Homo sapiens: one gene and its partners. The protein of the gene in region 1 interacts with the protein of each later gene in a biochemical or structural test. Each region holds a gene or a part of one and is shown on either strand. Other genes may lie near its edges.

Evidence for each region.
Region 2: the proteins of CHD3 (region 1) and SERBP1 form a complex in vitro, tested with the Homo sapiens proteins (one study listed by BioGRID).
Region 3: the proteins of CHD3 (region 1) and PRPF40A form a complex in vitro, tested with the Homo sapiens proteins (one study listed by BioGRID).
Region 4: the proteins of CHD3 (region 1) and GIT1 form a complex in vitro, tested with the Homo sapiens proteins (one study listed by BioGRID).
Region 5: the proteins of CHD3 (region 1) and SUMO1 form a complex in vitro, tested with the Homo sapiens proteins (one study listed by BioGRID and IntAct).
Region 6: the proteins of CHD3 (region 1) and HABP4 form a complex in vitro, tested with the Homo sapiens proteins (one study listed by BioGRID).
Region 7: the proteins of CHD3 (region 1) and PEX14 interact in a surface display test, tested with the Homo sapiens proteins (one large-scale study listed by IntAct).

The regions. Positions count from the first base shown.
Region 1 is NC_000017.11:7,905,789-7,909,288, reverse strand, and holds part of CHD3 (chromodomain-helicase-DNA-binding protein 3), read right to left. Parts: intron 3,434-3,500; coding exon 3,300-3,433; intron 3,167-3,299; exon of another isoform or gene 3,029-3,166; intron 2,737-3,028; coding exon 2,592-2,736; intron 2,421-2,591; coding exon 2,258-2,420; intron 2,164-2,257; coding exon 2,042-2,163; intron 1,937-2,041; coding exon 1,801-1,936; intron 1,689-1,800; coding exon 1,587-1,688; intron 1,399-1,586; coding exon of another isoform or gene 1,396-1,398; coding exon 1,270-1,395; intron 888-1,269; coding exon 779-887; intron 593-778; coding exon 460-592; intron 147-459; coding exon 1-146.
Region 2 is NC_000001.11:67,416,903-67,420,402, forward strand, and holds part of SERBP1 (SERPINE1 mRNA-binding protein 1), read right to left. Parts: intron 3,285-3,500; coding exon 3,107-3,284; intron 1-3,106. UniProt on the Homo sapiens protein: Ribosome-binding protein that promotes ribosome hibernation, a process during which ribosomes are stabilized in an inactive state and preserved from proteasomal degradation.
Region 3 is NC_000002.12:152,654,962-152,658,461, reverse strand, and holds part of PRPF40A (pre-mRNA-processing factor 40 homolog A), read left to right. Parts: intron 1-441; coding exon 442-573; intron 574-1,320; coding exon of another isoform or gene 1,321-1,338; exon of another isoform or gene 1,339-2,063; coding exon 2,064-2,156; 3' UTR 2,157-3,500.
Region 4 is NC_000017.11:29,572,975-29,576,311, reverse strand, and holds the end of GIT1 (ARF GTPase-activating protein GIT1), read left to right. Parts: coding exon 1-92; intron 93-180; coding exon 181-234; intron 235-413; coding exon 414-500; intron 501-608; coding exon 609-682; intron 683-841; coding exon 842-1,024; intron 1,025-1,169; coding exon 1,170-1,233; intron 1,234-1,376; coding exon of another isoform or gene 1,377-1,397; coding exon 1,398-1,610; 3' UTR 1,611-2,837; downstream 2,838-3,337. UniProt on the Homo sapiens protein: GTPase-activating protein for ADP ribosylation factor family members, including ARF1.
Region 5 is NC_000002.12:202,232,098-202,235,597, reverse strand, and holds part of SUMO1 (small ubiquitin-related modifier 1 isoform a precursor), read left to right. Parts: intron 1-3,500. UniProt on the Homo sapiens protein: Ubiquitin-like protein that can be covalently attached to proteins as a monomer or a lysine-linked polymer.
Region 6 is NC_000009.12:96,456,669-96,460,168, reverse strand, and holds part of HABP4 (intracellular hyaluronan-binding protein 4), read right to left. Parts: intron 1,791-3,500; coding exon 1,628-1,790; intron 1-1,627. UniProt on the Homo sapiens protein: Ribosome-binding protein that promotes ribosome hibernation, a process during which ribosomes are stabilized in an inactive state and preserved from proteasomal degradation.
Region 7 is NC_000001.11:10,477,950-10,481,449, forward strand, and holds part of PEX14 (peroxisomal membrane protein PEX14), read left to right. Parts: intron 1-3,500. UniProt on the Homo sapiens protein: Component of the PEX13-PEX14 docking complex, a translocon channel that specifically mediates the import of peroxisomal cargo proteins bound to PEX5 receptor.

The DNA of each region.
Region 1 (3,500 bases):
GAGAGGTGCTGGTGGCTCTCGGCCAGGCACTCGGCCTCGGCGAAGCGGGCGTGGAGGGCCATGGCGGGGTGCGCCGGCTCCTGCGACAGGTTCAGGTAGGCCGCCCGCCGCAGCTGCTCCTCAATCACCAGCGCCTGCTCCAGGAGCTGAGGGCACAGAGTTGGGAGGTGAAGGTAGGGCTCTGCCAGCAGTGGGTGAGGGGCTGGGGGGGCGGACATAGCAAGAGACCCACCCTGCCCTCACTGCTGGCCCAGGGCACTCCCAGCTCCAAACCGACTGCGAACCTAGCAGCAACCCTGACCCAGATCACACTCCCAAGCACAAGGTTACACTTTGGTCTTGGCCCCAGGTATCACCTCAGCCCTGAAGGTGTTAACCTTCCCTAGGTTCCAACTAGATCTGGTCTCACTTCTGACCCAAGCCCGTCTATAACCCGCTCCTTTCCTCCCTCATTCCCACCTTGAACCTCCGGGCCAGGAACTTATTTTTCATCTCCAGAAAGTTCCCCTTATTGGCTTCAGTTTTAAATGGCTCGTTGATAATGGCAAATTGAGCATCATTCTGGATGTCCTGCCACCGTGCATAGCCATGGCTACCAATGAAGGAAAAGGAACCATCAAGGAATTTAACAGGAATGGGCTTGGCTTTGAACACTTCTTCCTTTTGGCTTGACTCCCCAAAGTGTGGCACTAGCCCTGTCCCTGGGTGTGAAATCATCTTTTTTTTTTTTGCCAGCTTGAGAGAACCTTTTCCTTCTTGCATGTGTATCAAAGGATACAGGACAATCCCAGCCAGAAGCCAATAGTCATGTCTTCTGTGCCAGATCTCATTGAGTTTCCCCGAGGAAATAGCTGCCCGTTCCTCATTCTGCCACAGTGTGTGAAGCTCTGCAAAGAAGGCAGCAGACAGAAGAGGTAACAGGGTTTTGCAGACTGCACTCAGTCCAACAGACAGGTAGAGATGGAGAAACTGAATAATGAAAGGGAACTAAGGGCTCCTGAAGAGGAATGGGTAAAGGTTAGGTTTGGAACAAACTCAGTTCTAACCAGGTTCGTTAGAATTAAGAATAAAGGTGGGATTAGGGCCAGCTTTGGAGTTAAGAGGGATACTTAAGAAAGATTTAGAGCAAGGATCGGAGTCAGCATGCAACATACTTCATTGGAAGTTACTTGGAATTAAAGGTAGCAGGAAGCCTCAGGCAAAACGAGAAACCCCATGAGGATGAGCAGATCCCCTTGAGGAGCAGAAAGCAGCGAGAGTCTCCCCAACCTGTGAAGCCACCATCGGCGATATTGAACATGAACCGGGGCTTCTCTGTCTTTTCCTCTCGTCGCCCATTGGACCGTGGCTCATCTCGAGGCCCTGGTCGAAGCTCCCGGTCACCTTTTACATCTTCTGCTAGGACAGACAGGTCAAAGCTCACACCTCAGGACACCCTCCTCCCAGGTCCCAAGACTACTATCTGTACTGTACTGTACTGGCCTTTCAAACAGCTACCCGCCCAGGACCCAAGCATTCGGTTCCCCAGACTCCACCTCCCCTGATGCCCTCTGGGACCCAGGTGTCCGGTCCCTTCCACCCATTACCTCTCTTGCCCAAATCCCCTGTTTCCCCCTCCGGCCTCTCCCTGTGTTCCTGTCCATCCAACGGCTTCTCCTCCCCCCTTTCTCCTGGCGTCGACTCTGTGGCTGTGGGAGGGGGTAGGGGATAGGAAGGGAGGATGTTACCCTCATCCCCTGACCCCAGAAGAGGGAAATCCCAAATTCTAATCCCCCATCACTCCTAAGGCCATGCACCCACCTGACTTCTCTCTGTCCCCACGGTACCCAGGTTCAGGCTCCATCTCTCCAGGCACCCCTGGCACCTCATCCTCTAGAGGAATCTTCCTTGGCTCCAGCCGCTCCCCAAGTGATGGGGCTGGGCTGGGGGCATCAGCCTGGAAGAGGACAATGGGGTCAGGATGAGCCAGAGGGCTCCCAGGTACCTGGCCTCCAAGCCCCCTCCCCTCCCGCTCCACAGGGGAATCCAGGGAGCCACACACCTCTGTCTCCATCTTCTCCCCAATTCTGCTGTTCTTCTCTGGCTTTTCCTCCTGGTTTTCAGCTTCCTCCTTCTCAAGAGGTGTCCTTATGCCTTCTCCTTTCTCACTTGGAGCTGGAGTAGCTGCAGGGGAAGGCACAGTGATAAAGACAGAGATTCTCCCGCCCTGACTCCTGGCTCCCTTTCTGTCTCTCCCACCATCCTGACTTCTGATTACCAGGTTTAGAGGTGCAGGGACTGTTGGTAGCAGAAGCCTCAGGAGTGGTGGGAGACGTTTTGGTAGGAGAGGAGGCTCTGGAGGAGCGCTTAGAATCGGCGCTGGGGTCAGGCATCAGTTCCGGCATTGACCAACGCCCATTGATGTGCTCAAACTCCTGCACCTGGGGTGGCAGGGTGGGAGGGTTAGGTGTCAGCTCCAGGCGCTTACAGACAGGAAGCTCCAGTCTCCTCCGTCTCACACCAGCGCAAGCTTACAACTCAGGGACAGAGGCAGAGGAAGGACAGAGACTAGGCAGCCAGCTTGATTCTTTGGGTGACAGGAAGACTGATACCTTCTTTTTGACGAGAGACATGACTCCAATGCGGGTCAACACCTGCTGGCGACTCAGTCCCTCCCGAGGGACCCCATCGGCAAAGGTTTCAGAGCCGTCTGCCCCAGGCTCACACAGATGGCGCATGAACAAAGACACATAGGCCCTAAGGAGCATGGGAGTGGGAGGAGGGTTAGGGGAGCCACAGAAGGGGTATAGGGCAGTGAGGGAGGCGCGAGGATGACTGAGGACCCCCAAACCCCCAAATCCCCAGGTGCTCCAGGGCTCCTCCCCTGGGCCTCTCACTCTCACCATTACCAGCCCTCCAAGTCCTAACTGTCCCCCTGCGCCCCACCCCTGGGTCTTTCCCTTTGGCCTTGGTACTTAATTCCTGGGCCCCATCAGTCAGCTCTTCATCCTTTCCACCAGCTCCTCCTGCCAGGTTATTGTGGTCAAGTAAATGTGAGGCTAGGACAGCCCAGGAGAGGCTCCTTGCTTCAACGCCCCTCCCCTGGGGAGGATGCCTGGCCCCTCTACTCTAGGCTCGGCTGAGGGGAGGTGGAGTGGGCTGAGACCACCCCCCAGGAAATCGAGCCAGGAAGTATTGTATGACAGGGAGGGTGATAATCAGTTGAGTAAGGTCACATCATATGGCGGCCCCAAGGAAGAAAGGAACACCCAAAGCTCTTCCCCTTGCGTCCAACTCAGCCCTGTATCACCCACACTCACTTAAACTCCTTCTCAGTCTTGCCCCTCAGGTCCCGCACCAGCCACTGTGTGGTGAAGGCATCCTGTGGTGGCATCCCCCAGCGCATCACAGCATTGAGGAAAGCCTTCCGCTGACGGGTGTTGAAGCCCAGCACCTGAGGGTGGGAGCAAGGAGGCAATGGCGACAAATGTCTAGGGTTCTTAGGTCTTGTCCTTTCTACC
Region 2 (3,500 bases), on another chromosome or scaffold:
TTCAATTTATTGCAAACCACAGATCGAAAATATTCAGAAAAAAATAAAACCAACCAACCATATAACAATAAAAAGTAGGCCAGGTGTGGTGGCTGACACTTGTAATCCCAGCACTCTGGGAGGCATAGGCAGAAGGGCTGCTTGAGTCCAGGAGTTGGCACAGGTGTGTAGTTCCAGCTACTCAGGAGGCTGAGCTAGAAGGATCGCTTGAGCACGGGGAGGTTGAGGCTGCAGTAAGCTGTGACCATGCTACTGCATTCCAGCCTACATGACAGAGCAAGACCTTGTCTCAAAATAAAGTGTATGAGGGAGTGCTCACTTTGGCAGCATATATACTAAAAGTGGAACAATACAAAGATTATTAGCATGATCCCCACAAGGATGACACGCAAAACTGTAAATTGTTCTATATTTTAAATTAAAAAATAGAAACAATAAAAAATAAAGTATAGGGAAAACGTGTTTAGGCTATATGCAGATACTATGCCATTTTATATAATGGACATGAGCATCTGAAAATTTTAATATCTCTGGGTCCTGGAACGAATCCCCTGCAGATACCAAGAAACTGTACTGGGATAAAGTCAGGGCAGGGGGATCCTTTTTTTTTTTCTTTTTTCCTTTTTTTGAAACAGTCTTGCTCTGTCAACTAGGTTGGAATGCAGTGATGCTATCTTGGCTCACTGCAACCTCTGCCTCCTGGGCTCAAGTGATCCTCTCCCGCCTCAGCCTCCCAGGTAACTGAGACCACAGGTGCACGCAACCACATCCAGATAATTTTTATATTTTTTGTAGAAACAGGGTTTTGCCATGTTACCCAGGCTGGTCTCAAACTTTTAACTCAACAATCTGCCCACCTCAGCCTCCCGAAGTGCTGGGATTACAGGTGTAAGCCACTGTGTCCGACCTTTTTTCTAGAGCACTCAGACAATGAGGAGCAGAAAACAGAAACTCTGAGCTCTGTCAATAACACGGTAACACAGTTCTCCATTTGTAAATAGTTTCTTCCTTCCCCTTAACTACCTCACATTTGTCACGAGAATGAAGACATGTGAAAGTTAAAGTGTTGTTTTTTTTTTTTTTTTTTTTTTTTGAGACAGTCTTGCTCTGTTGCCCAGGCTGGAGTGCAGTGGTGTGATCTCAGCTCACTGCAACCTCTGCCTCCTGTGTTAAAGTGATTCTCCTGCCTCAGCCTCCTGAGTAGCTGGGATTACAGGCATGCACCACCACACCAGGCTAATTTTGTATCTTTAGTAGAGACGGGGTTTCTCCATGTTGGTCAGACTGGTCTTGAACTCCCGACCTCAGGTGATCCGCCCGCCTCAGTCTCCCAAAAGTGCTGGGATTACAGGTGTGAGCCACTGCGCCTGGCTGAAACCACGTGTTCTAATGCAGTTTTTTTTCTACAGGACTTAAAAAAGACAATGTCCTCATTTACTACTCATATGAAGTAAATGTTAAAAATCATCTCTAAACCTAAAAAAACTTTTAATCTTTTTAACCTCCATTTTATTTTAAAATGTTTCCAAGTTTGTCTTATAGCCATTTTGCAGTTTAAAAAATTATGCTTATTGGCTGGGCATGGTGGCACACGCCTATAATCCCAGCACTTTGGGAGGCTGAGGCAGGCGGGGATCACTGAGGCCAGGAGTTTGAGACCAGCCTGGCCAACATGATGAAACCTCATCTCTACTAAAAACACAAACATTATCCGGGCATGGTGGCGAGTGTCCGTAATCCCAGCTACTGAGGAGGTTGAGACACAAGAACTGTTTGAATCCGGGAGGTGGAGGTTGCGGTAAGCAGAGATGGTGCCACTGCATTCCAGCCTGGGCGACAGAGCCAGATTCTGTCTCAAAAAAAAAAAATAAAAATAACTAATACCTTATTGAAAGGGTTTGCCCTCACAATATTTTAATTTAACTTTACCTTAGGATGATAAAACTCAGTCTGGATTTCTGGCACAGCCCAATTTATGATATGAATAAATCAAACACAAATGTCAAAAGGTTAAAGGAAGCTGATAGAGAAAATGAATTTAGGAGAAGAAATAATATAGTTAGGGCTTGTATGAGTTTTTAAAGCCAAACAGGAAGCCGCACTGAAACATTCCTCTAAGAACACACCCCAAAGCTTAAACGGAAGCTACCAAATCAAAAGCCATCAATGTGACTTTCTCCAATACAGTTGACCCTTGAACAACGTGGCTTTGAACATTCTGCCTCTGTCAGTCTTGAGACAAGCAAGCCCAATCCCTTTTCTTCCTATCCAAAATAAAGACCTTTGTGATGATCCAGTTCCACTTAATGAACAGTAAATATATTTTCTCAACATTTTCTTTAGCTTACTTTACTGTAAAAACACAGTATATAATACGCAACATACAAAATGTGTTAACTGGTTATGTTATCACTAAGACTTTCAGTCAACAGGTTATTAGTAGTTAAGTTTTGGGAGAGTCAAAGGTTACATGTGCATTGATCTGCGGGGTCAGTGCCCCTAGCATCCTCATGTTGTTCAACAAGTCAACTGTATTTTCACTAGTTTCCATGTTTCTTAAGTAAAACCCACATATACTTTGGTTTTTAAAGTCGTCATTCCTTAGACAAAATGCACATTGCCATTTACTGAGTGTCCTGGCCATTATATATGGTATAGGCAGACAGTTTCAAAAGTTGAATTCTAAATGAAGTCACTTACATTTTAGGTTAAACCATATGAAAATGTCAAGATTTCAACCTAACACCATAATACCACAGCCCTTTAATGATCCCCAGTTTGGCAAGATTTCAAAAATACAACCACAACTTTGAAAAGAACTATCATATTTCTGAACACCAATAACTACAAGATACTCCACTAACAGCTTTTTAGGAAAAAGTAACTCTACCACATAAAACATAATTACAAATTGATCAAAGGACTAAATTTCTTAGAATATGTGATAATACAGTTTATTTTCCTTATAAAGCAAATTATCTGCCCCAAATGATCCTATGTAAAGCTTTAACAGACAAATAACCCATGTGAAATTTTAAAACAAAAATTATAAATACAATTCAAGTCACATCTGAACATTTTCAAACACGACAAAACTTAATTTTACCTCTTCACTCTTTGATTTATGAAGAACAAATCCCTTCTTCCACTGCCCATCAGCACCTTCATTTGGTTTTCGGATATTAAATTCTACTTTTGCCCGGTCCTTATTTTGAATAGCCTTCCACTCATCCAAAGTCATCTCTTTTGGACCCTCCTCTTTTACCTCTTCAACTTCATTCTCCCTGTGAAAAGGTTTTCAAGTTTTATACCTGGTAGAGAGCTGATATTACATAAAAGTATTTTAAATTTATGATTTTAATTGAGAAAATTAACCTTGTAATCTTTTAGAGAAAGATTATTCAAGGATGAGGGTACCCTAGTTTCCTATGTAACTAAGCAACTTGGTAGAGACCAGGAATTCAGTGTTTGCTAATTAGAGACAAGTAAGGAATATGGAA
Region 3 (3,500 bases), on another chromosome or scaffold:
AATAACCATTTAAGCACTAACGTTAAATTTTAAATAATTCCTACTCAGCAATTTCAAGAAAATAATTTTATTAATACAGCTGTCTGCCTTATGTGTTAAAGCTAACAGCAGTATACTATGTACATATATAAACCAATATTATATTGAGTTGGTGAGAAATGTAGTATCTGTCTGTATTTACATAATAGATACTACACATCTATTATGTGGTAGTAAGTCTCATGAGTGGTATTTTATCCTTCAGAATATTATCCTTCCCAAGGGAAAGCTGTCCCCATGAATCTTGGGTAAATTTTACTAAATCCTTGAGGTTAACAATTCACATTTTATTTCATCTCTCTAAGAGCACATAACCTGTTACACATAGATGTTCTTAAATATTACCTATATAACAATGGTATCTTCATCAAAATGCTAACCTGTTATTTTCTATTCATACAGGACTCTCCAGAATCCGATGCTGAGCGAGAGAAGGATAAAAAAGAAAAAGATCGGGAAAGTGAAAAAGACAGAACTAGACAAAGATCAGAATCAAAACACAAATCGCCTAAGAAAAAGACTGGAAAGGATTCTGTAAGTATTTAGAATTGTTTCATGCCTGTATTTTCAAAATGCAAAAATGTATTCTGTGGTTAAACCATGATGGTGTTGAAAGAATAGGCTTTTTTCCAGGTGTGCTACCATTGAAGAAAACAGTGAAAATTCAGTTAAGTACATTTCACACAATATCATAGTTTTTGGTCATGCATGATCCTAGATTTTATTCTCCTAAATTTGATATTTTTTAAATATAGCATTTCATAACTATAGCCTTATTAACTCACTAAGAAAGGATATGGTCACTAAGAAGTGCCACTGGACATTTTTTACCTAATTTTCAAATTTTTTTTTTAAGTGAGAGACTAAATCTGGGATTCTACAGATGTCTACAGTTGTCACTGTTATTAAATCCTTTGTTTCAAAAGGTAGCAATTCCAGTAACTTTTAGAAATACTGATTTGGGGTGGAGGAAGGGCAAATAAATAGGAGAGGAGAATATAAGCCAAAGTTAGTATTTCAATAACAGATTACATAATTAGTCCTTTTCAAATATATGTATATATGAATGACAGAGCCTAATAATGCAAATGCTGTGGGTTTAGCAAGGGTAAATGCCTATGAATCATCACTGGAGAGCATAAACTATGTAGGTAAAACCCTATTAGGGATCTCTGGATATTCTGATTCGTTGGTATAGGGTGGGTTTTTTTTTAGAGCTGAAACAGGTGAGTCTGAGTCACATCGTAAGTGAAGAGTGAATGTTTCCTTTGTACTTTCTAGCAGCTTATGGTGGGTTAAATGAAATCCCTGGAGTGAATGAAAGAGGACGATATGGGAACTATCCACTTTTCAAAGGTTGTGTCTTACGGTGCAGTATTATTTTTGTTTGTTCAGCCTAAATCTTGTCCTGCTCATTAGTCTTGTGTATTTATTTGGCACAGGAATCCATATGCTTAAAGCATACTACTTCTGTTTCTGTGATAATACTTGTGGAACCAGGGGGAAGCTACAAAATTAGCAAGGAATAGGCCAGGTGCAGTGGCTCACACCTGTGATCCTAGCCCTTTGGGAGGCCGAGGTGGGCAGATCACGAGGTCAGGAGTCGAGACCAGCCTGGCCAACATGGCAAAACCCCATCTCTACTAAAAATACAAAAATGAGCCGGGCTTGGTGGCAGGCACCTGTAATCCCAGCTACTCAGGAGGCTGAGGCAGGAGAATTGCTTGAACCCAGGAGGCAGAGGTTGCAGAGAGCCGAGATCGTGCCACTGCACTCCAGCCTGGGTGACAAGAACAAGACTCTGTCTCAACAAAAAAATTAGCAAGGAATGTATTATCTAGGAAATGAATACCTGGCTTCCATTAAATGGAAATATTGCTTCATATTCACACAGTCTTTAAACCCTGTGAAATGTGTTTCTTTGGAAGAGAGTTTATATAGATATTGGATTCTTTTTTCAAAGGCTCAGCCCGTAAACCTCTGAGTACTGATGTCAACTATAATTGTAATCAATGTCTTTTCAGGGTAATTGGGATACTTCTGGCAGCGAACTGAGTGAAGGGGAATTGGAAAAGCGCAGAAGAACCCTTTTGGAGCAACTGGATGATGATCAATAAATTATACCAAATATATGTTTACAGTATGATTTAAAGTCTGATTCAGACCAGGGACTCTATTTTAAGTTCAACTGAAATAACACTGGGTTTTAATTATATCACAGGAAAAAAAAAGTGCATTTAAGTATTGTTATCGTGGACTTTATAAAAGCAAAGGAAATTGAAAGTAACTTTTGATTCTGTATCAAGAATCATATTTTCATACAGTCATAACTGTCTTTCTGTGACCCTTTCACAGGGCACTGTAGGATGGATTAAAGGTGGCAATTTACTGATAACTGCAGATGTCTCTACTTTGTTCTAAAATCTAAGTCATGAGGTGATTTGATTTACTTTATAGAAGCTGGATTTTGAAGATCTAATGAAAAATTTTTTGATAATATAGTAGTACAAAAAAAGCACCAGCAACTGATAAAAATTGCTTTTTTGTGCGCTACCCAACTGGTTAAAGCCAATGTGATCTTTTATGGTGAAACTCCTAAGAAACAGGTGGTTTTGCTGGAAACTTGGTAGACCCTTAATTATAGTGGTGCTAATGAGCACTACTGTAATATAAAGCCACCATTATTTTTTATCAAACATCTGAATACATTTTACAAAGGCTATTGTGAGGGCATTATTTTGAGCATCTATTTTGAGGTGATGTTTAAAAAAACTTTAACATCAAATCAAATTGTAAATTAATTTAAATATATTGCCTTAAGGACCTACTAAAGAATGTGCCACCAGACTTTAAGTGATAGTTGCAATATCCTTGTCTAAAAAAAAAAAAAAAGTTGACTTAAACATTTTCTTTAACAGTTGTCTTTTTTTTCTAAATTCAGTCTTTCTCTTGCTTTTTTTTCCCTGCTATTGAGGAAGTATTTTGCCTTCCCTACTCACTGAGAAGTATTGACTTCGTGGTACACATTCTAAAGCATTTCTGATTTGAATATTTTTGTACATTTTTATCAATTATTAAACCTTCTCTTCTAGTGTGTACTAGTATTTATTTCTACTTAAACTGCTCAGCTCTAAAGAAATTGTATGATCACTTTAAAGGTACTAAATCCCTGAAATTTTGCTTCATCTTACCCACACCGCTAGTTTACTTTCCTTTTTTAATATTTAAGAATATTATAAATCAGTGCATTTGAGGTCCCTAGATTTGTTTTTCACCTATGAATTTTTTACAGACTATTTTAGAGAGGCTGTGGTTTGAAGACAGAATACTCTTTACATGCTAACTTTTGAAGGTTGGTAATGTAATTTATACTATTTTCCTTCAGTGCAGGAGATTTTTTAAGTAAATAAGTAAATTTTAGCACCTATTCTTCGGTATTATCTGTGTTATTCTTTTAATGT
Region 4 (3,337 bases), about 22 Mb from region 1:
TTTCCATGTATGAACCTGGCTCTGCCCTGAAGCCCTTTGGGGGCCCCCCTGGGGACGAGCTCACTACGCGGCTGCAGCCTTTCCACAGCACTGTGAGTCACCTATGGGTCTCAAGGTGTGGGGAGATGGGTGGGGCTGCCGCAGGGTCCACCATGACGCTCGCTGTGCTAACATCCCCAGGAGCTAGAGGACGACGCCATCTATTCAGTGCACGTCCCTGCTGGCCTTTACCGGGTAAGCCTGGGGAAGGCGTGTCCATCTTAGCCAGTAGGTTCTGAGCCCCAGGGGGTTCTGGGCTCTGTGCTGAATTCGGGGCTTAAGATGATTAGACTGACCTGGTCCCTGCTGCACTGCTGGTGAGCAGGGGGGCAGTGGGGCACACTGACTCCATCCAGCGCTGCCCTGGGTTTCAGATCCGGAAAGGGGTGTCTGCCTCAGCTGTGCCCTTCACTCCCTCCTCCCCGCTGCTGTCCTGCTCCCAGGAGGGAAGCCGCCACACGGTAATGTTTCCATGCCCAGTGCCCACAGGGTGGCTGGGGGCCGTGTGGGCTAGGGGCAGTGTGGGTCCAGGAACACGGCGCTCACAGCCCCTTCCCTCCGCCCTCCAGAGCAAGCTTTCCCGCCACGGCAGTGGAGCCGACAGTGACTATGAGAACACGCAAAGTGGGGACCCACTGCTGGGGTGAGGCTCCCTGGGTCTCCAGTCCAGCCTGCTCACATGCCGAGGCGGGGAGGTTGAGAGGGCCCCCAGTGTGTGAGGACCAAGGCGGGCGGCTCCGAGGCTGGAACGTGTCTTTCTCTATATGTATCTTTGTCTCTGTTTTCTGGACCTGGGCCTCAGGCTGGAAGGGAAGAGGTTTCTAGAGCTGGGCAAAGAGGAAGACTTCCACCCAGAGCTGGAAAGCCTGGATGGAGACCTAGATCCTGGGCTTCCCAGCACAGAGGATGTCATCTTGAAGACAGAGCAGGTCACCAAGAACATTCAGGAACTGTTGCGGGCAGCCCAGGAGTTCAAGCATGACAGGTACTGAGTGGAGGGGGAGGTGAGGGGGATGCAGTTCCTGTTGGCTTCTAGGGTGTTGCAGAGAGCATGAGGGGCCCTGGGTTCTGCTGTCCCTGGGAACCTCCCTTGAGAGCCCCCTGCTTTATAGCCTCCCTTCTCCCCGCAGCTTCGTGCCCTGCTCAGAGAAGATCCATTTGGCTGTGACCGAGATGGCCTCCCTCTTCCCAAAGGTACAGGGGCCAAAGAGAGGACCAGGAGTGGGAGGGCCTCGAGCTGGGGCAGGCGTGGAGAATCCCATCTGATCGCTACCTGGGTGGAGACACAGACAAACTGGGCCCTGATCTCAGCTGGTGGCTTAAAGTCCAAGGTCCAGCCTCACTCCTGCCCCCTCCAGAGGCCAGCCCTGGAGCCAGTGCGGAGCTCACTGCGGCTGCTCAACGCCAGCGCCTACCGGCTGCAGAGTGAGTGCCGGAAGACAGTGCCCCCAGAGCCCGGCGCCCCAGTGGACTTCCAGCTGCTGACTCAGCAGGTGATCCAGTGCGCCTATGACATCGCCAAGGCTGCCAAGCAGCTGGTCACCATCACCACCCGAGAGAAGAAGCAGTGACCTCTCTCCCCACACCCTCACCTGCACCCTAGGACCTCACTGGCCATAGGAGCTGGGCCACTCCAGACATTAATCCCCACCCCAACAGAGCCACTGGCACAAGTGCCCTTAGTGCTGCCACACTCCCTGGCAGCCAGGTGCCCTGGTGCCCACCCCTGTCGAGCCCCTAAGGATGGGGAGGTGGGGGGGCAGGAGCTTCTGTCCCCCACATTCCATGCACCTCCCCTCTGTATATAGCATCTCCCCCCTCCTAGTGAGCAGGGGCCTGCAAGGCATCACTCCCAGCCCCTCGCCTTCTAGGGCACCCTCAGCAAAGGGGCAGGTGGGGACACTCCAAGTGGGGCAGCTCTCCGTACATGCGCCCCACCCCCATGAGCCAGTTCAGCCCTACTGGGGGCTGAGCGGGGGCATCCCCTCCTTTGTACATAGTCTCCATGGATGTCCCTGCCCTGTAGCCACCAGCCCCTTGCTGCTCTCCCTTTAATGCCATATGGCCCCTGCCTAGGGCACAGGCCCCAACCTGTGTGCTGGGGTCCCCAGCAGCAAACACTGGAAAGTCTGTTTTTTTTTTTTCTTTCTTCTTCCCCACCCCTTAATTTTAACTTTGTGGTAACTGAGTGCCCCCGCGTGCCTGCGTGTTGAGTGTGTGGGCGGCAGTGCCGTTCCGGAGGCCTGGTCCATCTGGAGTTTTGAGGGGTGAGGGGACCAGAGCAGTGGGACCAGCATGGGGATCAGCTTCCCTTCCCCACCTGGAGCCAGGGACTGTCCGGGTAGCCAGTTTTGGTCCTGCCAGCTGCCTCCCTGATCCCTCCCCACTCTCGCCCCTTCTCTATGAACTTAAATCAAAAACCACTTCCCTCCATCTCCTCCTGCTCCTGCGTGGAGGGGGAATGTGTGCTGGCTAGGGTGGAGGACTGAGCACCTGAGCCTGGGGCTGGCTCCCCGGGGTCCCCGACTCAGCTGGTGGCTGTGGAGCTGAGTCCCCTCCCCGTAACCTCTGCAAGGCCAGCACCCACCATCACTACCTGCACCTGCTGTGGTCCCACCCTCTGGAGGCCTGGGAACCTGGCTGCAGCCTGGGAAGGCTGGAGAGGCAGACGGTGGGACCCACCAGCTCTCTCCCCATCCCGCTTCTTCCCTGGGGGCCAGGCCCTACCTGTGTGGTGGTGGGTGGGCTGTCAAGACGTGTCATGTACATTTGTATCAAAAATAAAGAAGTGACCATGAGCTGTTTCTGATGCTTAGAGAATGGGGGCTGGAGGGAGGTGGCAGACATGAAGGGTGACTGCAAGTGCCCCAGGACCCCCGCCCTAGGGAAGCCCCTGTGCTGGGAACGTCTGTCTAGTGGAAGAGTTAGTTTGCGAATAACAAAGCTAACATGTATGACGATAACGCCACCCTCCCACGAGCACATTCCTAAAGCCCCATGTCCAGGGACAGGTTGGCCAGCGGGGGCGGGCTGCCTCAAACACCACCTCCATGGCCTAGGACGAGGGTCCGGGTGGGAGTCTCTGTGCGGCAGATGCACAAGCTCAACTCCAGAGTCTACTAAAAATAATTTAATTAGAAACGGAGTTTTGGCAAGGGAGGCAGAAGCGGCTCCTTTTCTCCCCTTGGCCGCCCACTCAGCAACCAACAAGGAGGAAAGCCCCCGCAGTGCTCGGCCAGTGCCGCGCCATCGCCACCAGGGAGCGCCCCGCGCGCGGTCCACGTGGCAGAGGTCGCGG
Region 5 (3,500 bases), on another chromosome or scaffold:
CGAGGTCGAGGTTGCAGCAAGCCAAGATCATGCCACTGTACTTCAGCCTGGGCGATAGAGACCCTGACTCAAAACAAAGAAGACCCAGTACAAGTTCAGTGTTGAGTGCTAAAGACTTAAAAGAGTTATAAAGCTGAACCCTTAATCTTAAGAGGTTTATAAGTGAGAACAAGAATCTCCAAATCCTGTACTGTTTAATATCAGCATGAGACTAAACCACTGTCCTAAGAAGACAACCTTAATTTGAATCAAGTTATTTTAGAGTGATGTGTTTTCTGAGGCAGCTCTCAGAAGGTTATTGTCTGGTGTTAAAATAGTGAAATTGAGTAATAACAAGGTTAAAATCGGTGGACATTAAATACACACAAGACTTCAATTGCTGGGTCCTCCATTGATTAATGAAAAAATGATTGTTTTTGGAATTTGAGTGAAACACTTCTTAATGGCTGAGTAGGGTGGCTTACGCCTGTAATCCCACCACTTTGGGATCACTTGAGGCCAGGACTTTGAGACCAGCTTGGCCAACATGAGGAAAGCACGTCTTTACTAAAAATACAAAAATTAGCTGGGCCTGGTGGCTCATGCCTGTAATCCCAGCTACTTGGGAGTCTGAGGCGAGAGGATCGCTTGAGCTTGGGAGGTGGAGGTTGCAGTGAGCGGAGATCATGCCACTGCATTCCAGCCTGGGCGACAGAGCAAGACTCTGTCCCAAAAAAAAAAAAAAAAAAAAAAGAAAAGGAAAAAAAACAAAAAACTTTTTTTTTTTTTTTTTTTTGAGACGGAGTCACAAAAAATTAGCCACCATGCCCAGCTAATTTTTTTGTATTTTTGGTAGAGACAGGGTTTCACCATATTGGCCAGGCTGTCTCGAACTCCTGACCTTGTGATCCGCCCGCCTCGGCCTCCCAAAGTGCTGGGATTACAGGCGTGAGGTGCCGTGCCTGGCAAAAAAAAAAAAAACACAAAAAAACCCACTTCTTTATAATTTTAACAATTCCAACATCATCTAGTAGATTTGTGTACCATTATTAAATAATCCTTTAAAATAAGTTCTAAACCTAAGGCCCATAGACCATAAAGACTGAAAGTTCGCTTACATTGTATGGAGTGTTTTGTGAGTATTTGTGCATACGTATTTTTTTTTTTTTAAGATAGAGCATTGCTCAATTGCCCAGGCTGGAGTACAGTGTGGTGTGATCTCGGTTACTGCAACCTCTGCCTCCTGGGTTCAAGTGATTCTCCTGCCTCAGCCTCCCTAGTAGCTGGGATTATAGACACATGACACCATACCTGGCTAATTTTTGTATTTTTTGTAGAGATGGGGTTTCATCAGGCTGGTCTCGAACTCCTGACCTCAGGTGATCTGCCCGTCTTGGCCTCCCAAAGTGCTGGGTTTACAGACGTGAGCCCAGCCATATATATATATTTTTTTTAAATAGGAGAAAGGACCCATAGTCTCATCAGGGGTACGTGATTCCTCAAAATGGTTAAGGACCATCCTTTAACCAGTAACAGAAATCTGATTGGGTGCTTTCCTTTAGCCCAGTCTCACCTTGTAGCAAAACAAAGTGCTCGTACAGAACCCGAAGCTTAATATCAAAAGGATAAGGGTAATTTGTACAAATATTTTCCCCTTCCTCCTTTCTGATATTTGAGTTTATAGTGTTTCTTTTTTATACCAAAATCATTAAAGGTAGCTTGGTCAGCTCTTCAATTCAAGTCTGTTAATTGTAGCAATTGGATGACTGTTCCACTCTAACTGAATCTGTATTAACACCCCCAAAGAGAGATTGAATGATTTCCTTTTATCTTTAGTCAAGGATTTGGAAGCATTGTGTAATTCTGATTATCTGATACATTACCTCAAAATTTTGTGACTTAAAACAACAGCCATTTATTTTGTTTATAAATCTGCAATTTGGACAGGGCTCTGTGGATTAGACTCACCTCTGCTTCTTGGTGTGTGGGGCCTCAGCTGAGATGACTCAAGTGGCTGGGGGCTGGAACAGCTAGTTGTCAGGTGAGATGAGACTGGATGGGGCAAGTGTCTCCATATAGTCTCAGAGCCTTTCTTAGTGGTTTCATCATGTGATGTCAGCATGGAGACCCCAGGGTATTCAGACTTACGGCTCAGGGATCACAGAGAGAATAGGTGTTCCAAGAGAACCTGGGTGGAAATAGCAAGTCTCCTACAACCTAGCCTTGGAAGTCACGTCTGTAATTCTGTTGCCCACTCAAATCACTAAGGTCAGCCAGATTCAAGGGAAAGGCATTTATTTAGACACTGTTTCTCAATGGGAGAGTAACAAAGAATTTGCAGTTATCTTTAATCTACATTAATTGTATTTTTGCTGCCATGATAGTATTATTCCCTGCAGTGTTCTATATAGCTCCCTGCTATTGATTTTTACTGATTTTAGAAATTCTTTGCTTGAGATAGCAGGAGAATATGATGAACTGGTTGTGTATTAAAATTCATAATTGTGTGTACTACTATTTATATCATAGAATAGATATGTTAAACTGTAGTTATTACTTGAGTATGTAGTTAAGCATTTCATGCCCTAGGAGAAGAAGAATACTGTGTCCGCTCTGATAGACATGAGGTCCTGCTAGTGGATGTTACAAATGTATAGATTGTAGCATTATCTAAACAAACTTTACTAGTAGTTTAAAAATTGAATATGAATGTTATGATTACTCATTAAGATTTAGTAGTTCAGATTTAAAAACTATTAAGTAGTTGTCAACTCATGACATCCTTTAGTCCCGAAGGCAGTTAGGGTATCTCTTTCATAATTTTTACATGTAATGTTACAGTTATTTACGTTCCTTTTTTTTTTTTTTTTTTGAGATGGAGTCTTGCTCTGTGGCCCAGGCTGGAGTGCAGTGGCATGATCTCGGCTCACTGCAACCTCTGCCTCCTGGTTCAAGTGATTCTCCTGCCTCAGCGCCTCGAGTAGCTGGGATTACAGATGTGTGTCACCACGCCTGGCTAGTTTTTATATTTTTAGTAGTGATGGGCTTTCCCCATGTTGGCCAGGTTGGTCTTGAACTCCTGACTTCAAGTCATCCACCTGCCTCGGCCTCCCAGAGTGCTGGGATTACAGGTGTGAGCCACCGCGTTGCCAGTTATTTACATTCTAAGTGTCTTTTCTCCATTACATCAGGCTTTATTTATCCTCTTTTTCCTGTAATGCTTAGCACATTGAGTGGATAATTAGTAAAAAATTTTTTAAAGGAGAGTGGCCAGATTCATTCAACAAATGTTTATTAAATGTCACAATGTTCACAGCATGATTCTAGGCCCTAGAATTGGAAGGTCGCCTCAAAAACATGAAACAGCAGGTACCTTCCTCCTCCTCTTTCAGTCCTCTTGATGTTGTTTTGTTATTGAGGCAGGGCTGGTTGCCATGGAATAGTTTTTCTCTTATGATATTTTTGCATACCTTCTTCATCTTTACTTCTGTTAGCAATAGACCTGGTAACTATATCCAAAG
Region 6 (3,500 bases), on another chromosome or scaffold:
CTATTTTTTCATGTCACATATAAAGATCTATTTTATCCTTTTTAAAGACTACACAGTCTTGCTACTAAAAAAGGGGGGAAACATGGGTTTGTGCAAGTGAACTATAATTTCCTCATTTCCACAGAATCCCTAAAGTGAGGGGAAAATAAATACCCAAATGCTTCCAAAAATAAGCAGCTCTGCTACAAGAAGCTTTGCAGAAACAAGGAGACTGTGCTTACTACACAGCAGATTTGAAGTAATCACCAAAAAAGGTGCAAAATTAAGGCTTTCTGTAAGTTTCTCCCTCCAACATGGTTGCAGATAGACTATCTCAATGTCTTGAATGTGTAACTTCCAGGTGAACAGTTCTGCATGAGTCATCACCTGCTCAGCCCACCCAGGCTAAGTTACTCTCTGCTGGACTTTTGTTTTGTTTTGTTTTTAATAGGCTCTATAGTATAGTTTTACAAAGCCACATTTTTTGGTTAAAACTTGTAGCCAGAATCCTAAATGGAATGGAATTAGCAGTCAAGAAGCAGAAAGAGTTTGGAAAAATGGCTCCCTTGACATATAACTGTTCACTATTCTAGTCTTCCTTAGCTTGTTTAACTTTATTTTCCTTGAAATGTGATTCACTACTTGTTTCTGTTTAACATAAACAGGTTTAATGATTAAACAAAGACTTTAAGCAGCAAGTGCCAAACATAAGACACAACCCCTCCCCGTGTTGAGGTGGAGTGCGGTGGCCACCATGCTGCCACATCACTAAGCAGCGACGCAACACTCCACCAGCCCACGACTTCTGTCCATGTTAGAGTACTTCGGAGAGCAGCCATGCCCTCCAGAAATTGGTATTACACATCATAACAGACTCTTCTTCAAATTTCATCATGGCAGCCTACTGACCTGACCGTGGAGCTAGGAATTTATTTCAATCCATTGAGCAGTCTAAATTGGTAATGTGAAATCAAAAACCATAATTATATCCCTAGTCCAAAATTATATCTCTAATCTAGAACTTCAAAAGAAAACCAGTTCAACACACTCCTGTGTAATTTCTTTTTAAGAGTGCTCTTCAGTTACCAACAAGCAATTCATTTTTAATTGTACAATCATTTCCTGAACCAAGACGTAAAGGCATCTATGAGGAAAAAGGAAGATCCTTCCCATCATCTAAGGTAACATGAATTGCACATAAATTAGTAAAACATTCCTAGGACTGGTACCACAAAAAGCAGTAGCCAGTAGAAAGTTGTATTTTCTGGGCCGGGCATGGTGGCTCACTCCTGTAATCCCAGCACTTTTGGCAGGCCAAGGCAGGTGGATCACCTGAGGTTGGGAGTTCAAGACTAGCCTGACCAACATGGAGAAACCCCGTCTCTACTAAAAATACAAAATTAGCCGGGCGTGGTGGCACATGCCTGTAATCCCAGCTACTTGGGAGGCTGAGGCAGGAGAATTGCTTGAACCCGGGAGCGGAGGTTGCAGTGAGCCGAGATCGCACCATTGCACTCCAGCCTGGGCGACAAGAGCGAAACTGTCTCAAAAAAAAAAAAAAAAGAAAGAAAGAAAAGAAAAAGAAAGTAGCATTTTCTCAAAACCTTTCTGGTTCCCCACCCGCCCTGCTGAGGACTGCAGCACATACTTTTCATCTGGAAACTTCTCAGCTGTGAAGTCTGCCTGCCTCTCTGTCTCATAGGGTCGGTATTCCCTGTAGGATCTCCGCTCAGCTCTTTCGAGCATCCCCTCCGGCCCACGGCTGTCATTCCATCCTTGCTGCTCCCCTCTTCTAGGAGTCCGCTTCTGGCCTACCAACAGAAAATCAAAGCAGAGAGCTGGAACACAACATCTGCAACAGCACACTATTAAACTTTACAGGTACTTGTAAATTTCATTTTTCTAGAAATCAACGTCATAGGAGAATTCAGGAAGTTTAGAAAACTTCAAAGAAAAAAGTTGCTGATACTACAACTGCCCACAGTCTACTTTTTAATAGGATGTTACTATTAAATCATGCTTTCCCTATATCCTAGAAAGTATATGACCAACTAAGCTCACCTATAATTACAGGCATCTCCCAATAACTGTGACAGCCATGGGTACATTTTACTAAATAAGCTACAGTTCACAAAAGCAGTCTTACAAAAACACAGTGTGTAAGCCGTACCTAGAAAATGAAAGAATACCCTATATTTCAGACTGTACTTTTAGAATCCCAACTGCACATTACATAGCAACTATGGCTTATCACTGGCTACTAAGGTTTTTGTTTTTATTTTGTATTTTTTTAATTTATTTACTTAATTACTTATTTTGAGACAGAGTCTTGCTCTGTCACCCAGCCCGAAGTGCAGTGCACTGTTTAATCTTGGCTCACTGCAATCTCCGCCTCCCAGGCTCAAGCAATTCTCATGCCTCAGCCTCCCAAGATGCTGGAATTACAGGCATGTGCCACCATGCCCAGCTAATTTTTGTATTTTTAATAGAGACAGGGTTTCACCATGTTGGCCAGGCTGGTCTCGAACTCCCAGCTTCAAGCAATTCACCCACCTCACCCTCCTGAAGCACTGGGATTACAGGCATGAGCCTCAGCGCCTGGCCAAGGTTTTTGTTTTTAAAGTTTGTAGTGCTTATATTTTTACTTTGAAAACAGATTTTCCTGCTATTCTATGAGATATATAGACTTGCAGTTATAACTTCCTGAATATGAACCAAACACTGCTATTTGGCAACTTGCCCAAGAGTCAGCCAGTACTTGAGGGCATCTCTTTTTGTCCACTCAGTCCAGCACTTGGACACTGTGCTGGGACCACAGACTCTGGTTTTGTTCTTGTGTTTTTTTTTTGAGACTGAGTTTCACTCTTGTTGCCCAGGCTGGAGTGCAATGGCCCGATCTCGGCTCACTGCAACCTCCGCCTCCCGGGTAGAGATTAGCTGGGATCACAGGCCTGCGCCACCACGCCTGGCTAATGTTGTATTTTCAGTAGAGACGACGTTTCTCTAACCTGGTCAGGCTGGTCTCCTCAGCCTCCCAAAGTGCCAGGATTACAGGCGTGAGCCACCGTGCCCGGCCGAGACTCTGGTCTTTTCCTCTGTCCTGTCACCTTGCTTTACTCCCCTTTAGTTTTAATGCTTTAAACATCTTAAGCAAAGTCTATGTTTGAAGCCATCTAATACTTGGTAAATACATTGTGGAGAACTTTGTCACATCTTTAATCTTCAAAAAAAGTCTATCTTTTTTTATATACATTTAAAAGATCTCCTCTCACTATGTGCAATATTTACTATAGTGGCTTCAATTTTTCTTGGTACAAATTACTCTCCACATTAGTTGTATAGCTATGACATTTATTCAAGTTAATGGATATATATATATATATATATATATATATATATATATATATATTTTTTTTTTTTTTTTTTTTTTGAGATGGAGTCTTGCTCTGTTGCCCAGGCTGGAGTACAGCGGCGCCATCTCGGCTCACTGCAAGCACCGCCTCCCGGGTTCACGCCATTCT
Region 7 (3,500 bases), on another chromosome or scaffold:
GCGATCTCGGCTTACTGCAACCTCCGCCTCCCAGGTTCAAGTGATTCTCCTGCCTCAGCCTCCCAAGTAGCTGGGGCTACAGGTATGCACCACCAGGCCTGGCTAATTTTTTTTTTTAAGTAGAAATGGGGTTTCACCATATTGGACAAGCTGGTCTCAAACTCCTGACCTCAGGTAACCTGCCCACCTCGGCCTCCCAAAGAGCTTGGTATTACAGGCGTGAGCCACTGCACCTGGCCTTAAATGAGTTATTTATGTAAAAATGCCAGAACAGTGCCTGAAACAATGTGTTGTCTATTATTATTATTATTCAATTTAATAAGCTCTGAGTTTTCACTCACAAATGGATCTAAACCTTTCTTCAAGTTCTATTACGACATCTTTTGGGGTATGATTTTTCATGTGTTGACTACTTGTCTAGTAAAGTTCTTTTATTCAGAAGTAATTCCTTAAAATTTCAAGGAATGCCCTGAATGCTAGTGTTTATTCTAGCTGTCCTTCATGACTTTTGCATTTCAGGAACATACTTACTTTTTCATAATGGTATAGTCTTTTTAGTCTATCCTCAAGACGACTTGCTGGAATTTCATTTATTGCTTCCTTTGTTCTGTGTTCCCCACATTGCTCTGTTTTATGTGGTTGATCTATTGATTGAGACAGGGTCTCACTCTGTCACCAGAGTGCGGTGGTGTGATCATGGCTCACTGCATCCTTGCCCGCCCAGGCTCAGGCAATCCTTTCGTCTCAGCCTCCTGAGTAACCGGGACTACAGGTGTGCACCACCATGCCTGGCTAATGTATTTTTTTTTTTTTTGAGACAGAGTCTCGCTCTGTCGCCCAGGCTGGAGTGCAGTGGTGCGATCTCAACTCACTGCAAGCTCCGCCTCTCGGGTTCGAACCATTCTCCTGCCTCAGCCTCCAGAGTAGCTGGGACTACAGGCACCTGCCACCACGCCCGGCTATTTTTTTTTTATTTCATTTTTAGTAGAGACGATGTTTCACCGTATTAGCCAGGATGGTCTCGATCTCCTGACCTCGTGATCCGCCCACCTCGGCCTCCCAAAGTGCTGGGATTACAGGTGTGAGCCACTGTGCCTGGCCTGGCTAATGTATTTTTAAAACAATTTTTGTAGTGGTGAGTTCCTGGCTGGGCGTGATGGCTCATACCTGTAATCTTAGCACTTTGGGAGGCTGAGTTGGGAGGATCGCTTGAGGCCAGGAGTTTGAGACCAGCCTTTGCAATATAGGGAGACCTCGTTCCTACTGAAAATTAAAAAATTAGCCAGGCATGGTAGTGCTTGCCTGTGGTTCCAGCTACTTTGGAGGCTGAGGTGAGAGCATCACTTGGGCCTGGGAGGTTGAGGCTGCAGTGAGCGGTGATTGTGCCATTGCCCTCCAGCCTGGGTGAGAGAGCAATACCCTGTTTGGGGACGGGGGAAGAGACAGAGAGAGAGAAAGTGCTGAGATTATAAGCATGAGCCACCACGCCCAGCCAGCATGGCTGATCTCTCATTGAAGTCCTTTCTAGTGTGTACACGTTGGAGCCCGTAGGAATGAGAAACGTTATCTCTATTTCCCAACTTTCCTACTAGCTTTTCTTCCTTCGCTGAACAGCAGAGGCATGGTTCAATCTGATTACTTCACAGTTACTGAGTATCGAGTATTATTGCAGAAGGTAGATTTCCTATCTGTGGAGGTTCACTGGGTACAGTAAATTTTGCATTGAGAGGCTACAGAAGCAGGCAGGGAGAAGAGCAGAGTGAAAGAGTGGAAGAGCATGGCTTCGCATCCTGGCAGGTTTTGGTGGAACTTCATCACTCACAACTATTGGACTTATCACTCCACCTTTCTGAGTATGTTTTCTCCTCTGTAAAACGAGAGCAATAATAGTTACCCTTAAAGCTGGGTGTGGTGGTGCATGTCTGTAGTTCCAGCTACTCAGGAGACTGAGGCTGGAGGATTGCTTGAGCCCAGGAGTTGGAGTCTGTAGTGCACGATGATCACATATGTGAATAAACCCCTGTACTCCAGCCTGGGCAACAGAGTGCAACCCTATCACTTAAAAAATAAATAAATAAAATAAAAAATAATTACCCTTTTAGTGTTGACTGAAATCACAGATGTGAAGAGCACCTGCTGCATAGTAAGTGCTCAGAGTTAGTTTTCTTCTCCCAGTCTTTACATGTAGTTTTGAGAGTCTGTTGAACTCTTGAATAACAGCAGGTCAGACAAGGTATTTGCCCTCTCAATGTTTTTTTTTTTTGTTTTGTTTTGTTTTTGAGATGGAGTCTCCCTCTGTTGCCCAGGCTGGAGTACAGTGGCTCAATCTCGGCTCACTGCAACCTCAGCCTCCCAGGTTCAAGCGGTTCTCCTGCTTCACCTGCCTCAGCCTCCTGAGTAGCTGAGACTACAGGTGTGTGCCACTACGCCTGGCTAACTTTTTTTTTTTTTTTTTTTTTTTTGAGACGGAGTCTTGCTCTGTCTCCCGATCTGGAGTACAGTGGCACAATCTCGGCTCACTGCAACCTCTGCCTCCTGGGTTCAAGCGATTCTCCTGTCTCAGCCTCCTGAGTAGCTGGGACTACAGGTGCCCGCCACCATGCCCAGCTAATTTTTTTGTATTTTTAGTAGAGATGGGGTTTTGCCATGTTGGCCAGGCTAGTCTTGAATGCTTGACCTCAGGTGATCCACCTGCCTCGGCCTCCCACAGTGTTGGGATTACAGGTGTGAGCCTGGCACCTGGCCTCAACTTTTTATTTTGAAAAATTTCTCACGTATAGAAAAGTTGAAAGGATAATACTGAGAACTTCTGTAAAATTCCCATAAAAACTTAACCAAGATGCACTGTTCACATTTTGCTGAATTTGCTTTATGTCAGTCTCTCTCTCTCTTTCTCTCTCTCTCTCTCTCTATATATATATTTTTTTTTTTGGAAGGATTTGTGGTAAGTTACAGACATCAAGGATATTTCATCCTAGAATATTTCACCTTATCTCTCATAAGAGTAAGGTTATTCCCCTGTATAACCACAATATCATTATCACACAAGAAATTTAAGTGTTGATAAATAGTATTATTTAAAACAGAATCTGCACTCAAATTTTCACACTTAAAAAAAATCAGAATCTAGTGAAGAAACAGAGATTGCATTGATTTGTCTCTTTAGTCTTTTTTTTTTTTCCTTTCCTTCCTTTTTTTTTTTGTTTGAGACAGAGTCTTGCTCTGTTGCCCAGGCTGGAGTGCAGTGGTGCAATCTTGGCTCACTACAACCTCCGCTTCCTGGGTTCAAGCAATTCTCCTGTCTCAGCTTCCCAAGTAGCTGGAATTACAGGTGCCCGCCACCATGCCTGGCTAATTTTTTTGTATTTTTAATAGAGACAGGGTTTTGCCATGTTGGCCGGGATGGTCTCGAACCCCTGACCTCAAGTGATCCACCCACCTCGGCCTCCCACAGTGCTGGGAGCCACCGCGTCCAGCCTTAAACTTTGTTTGTTTGTTTG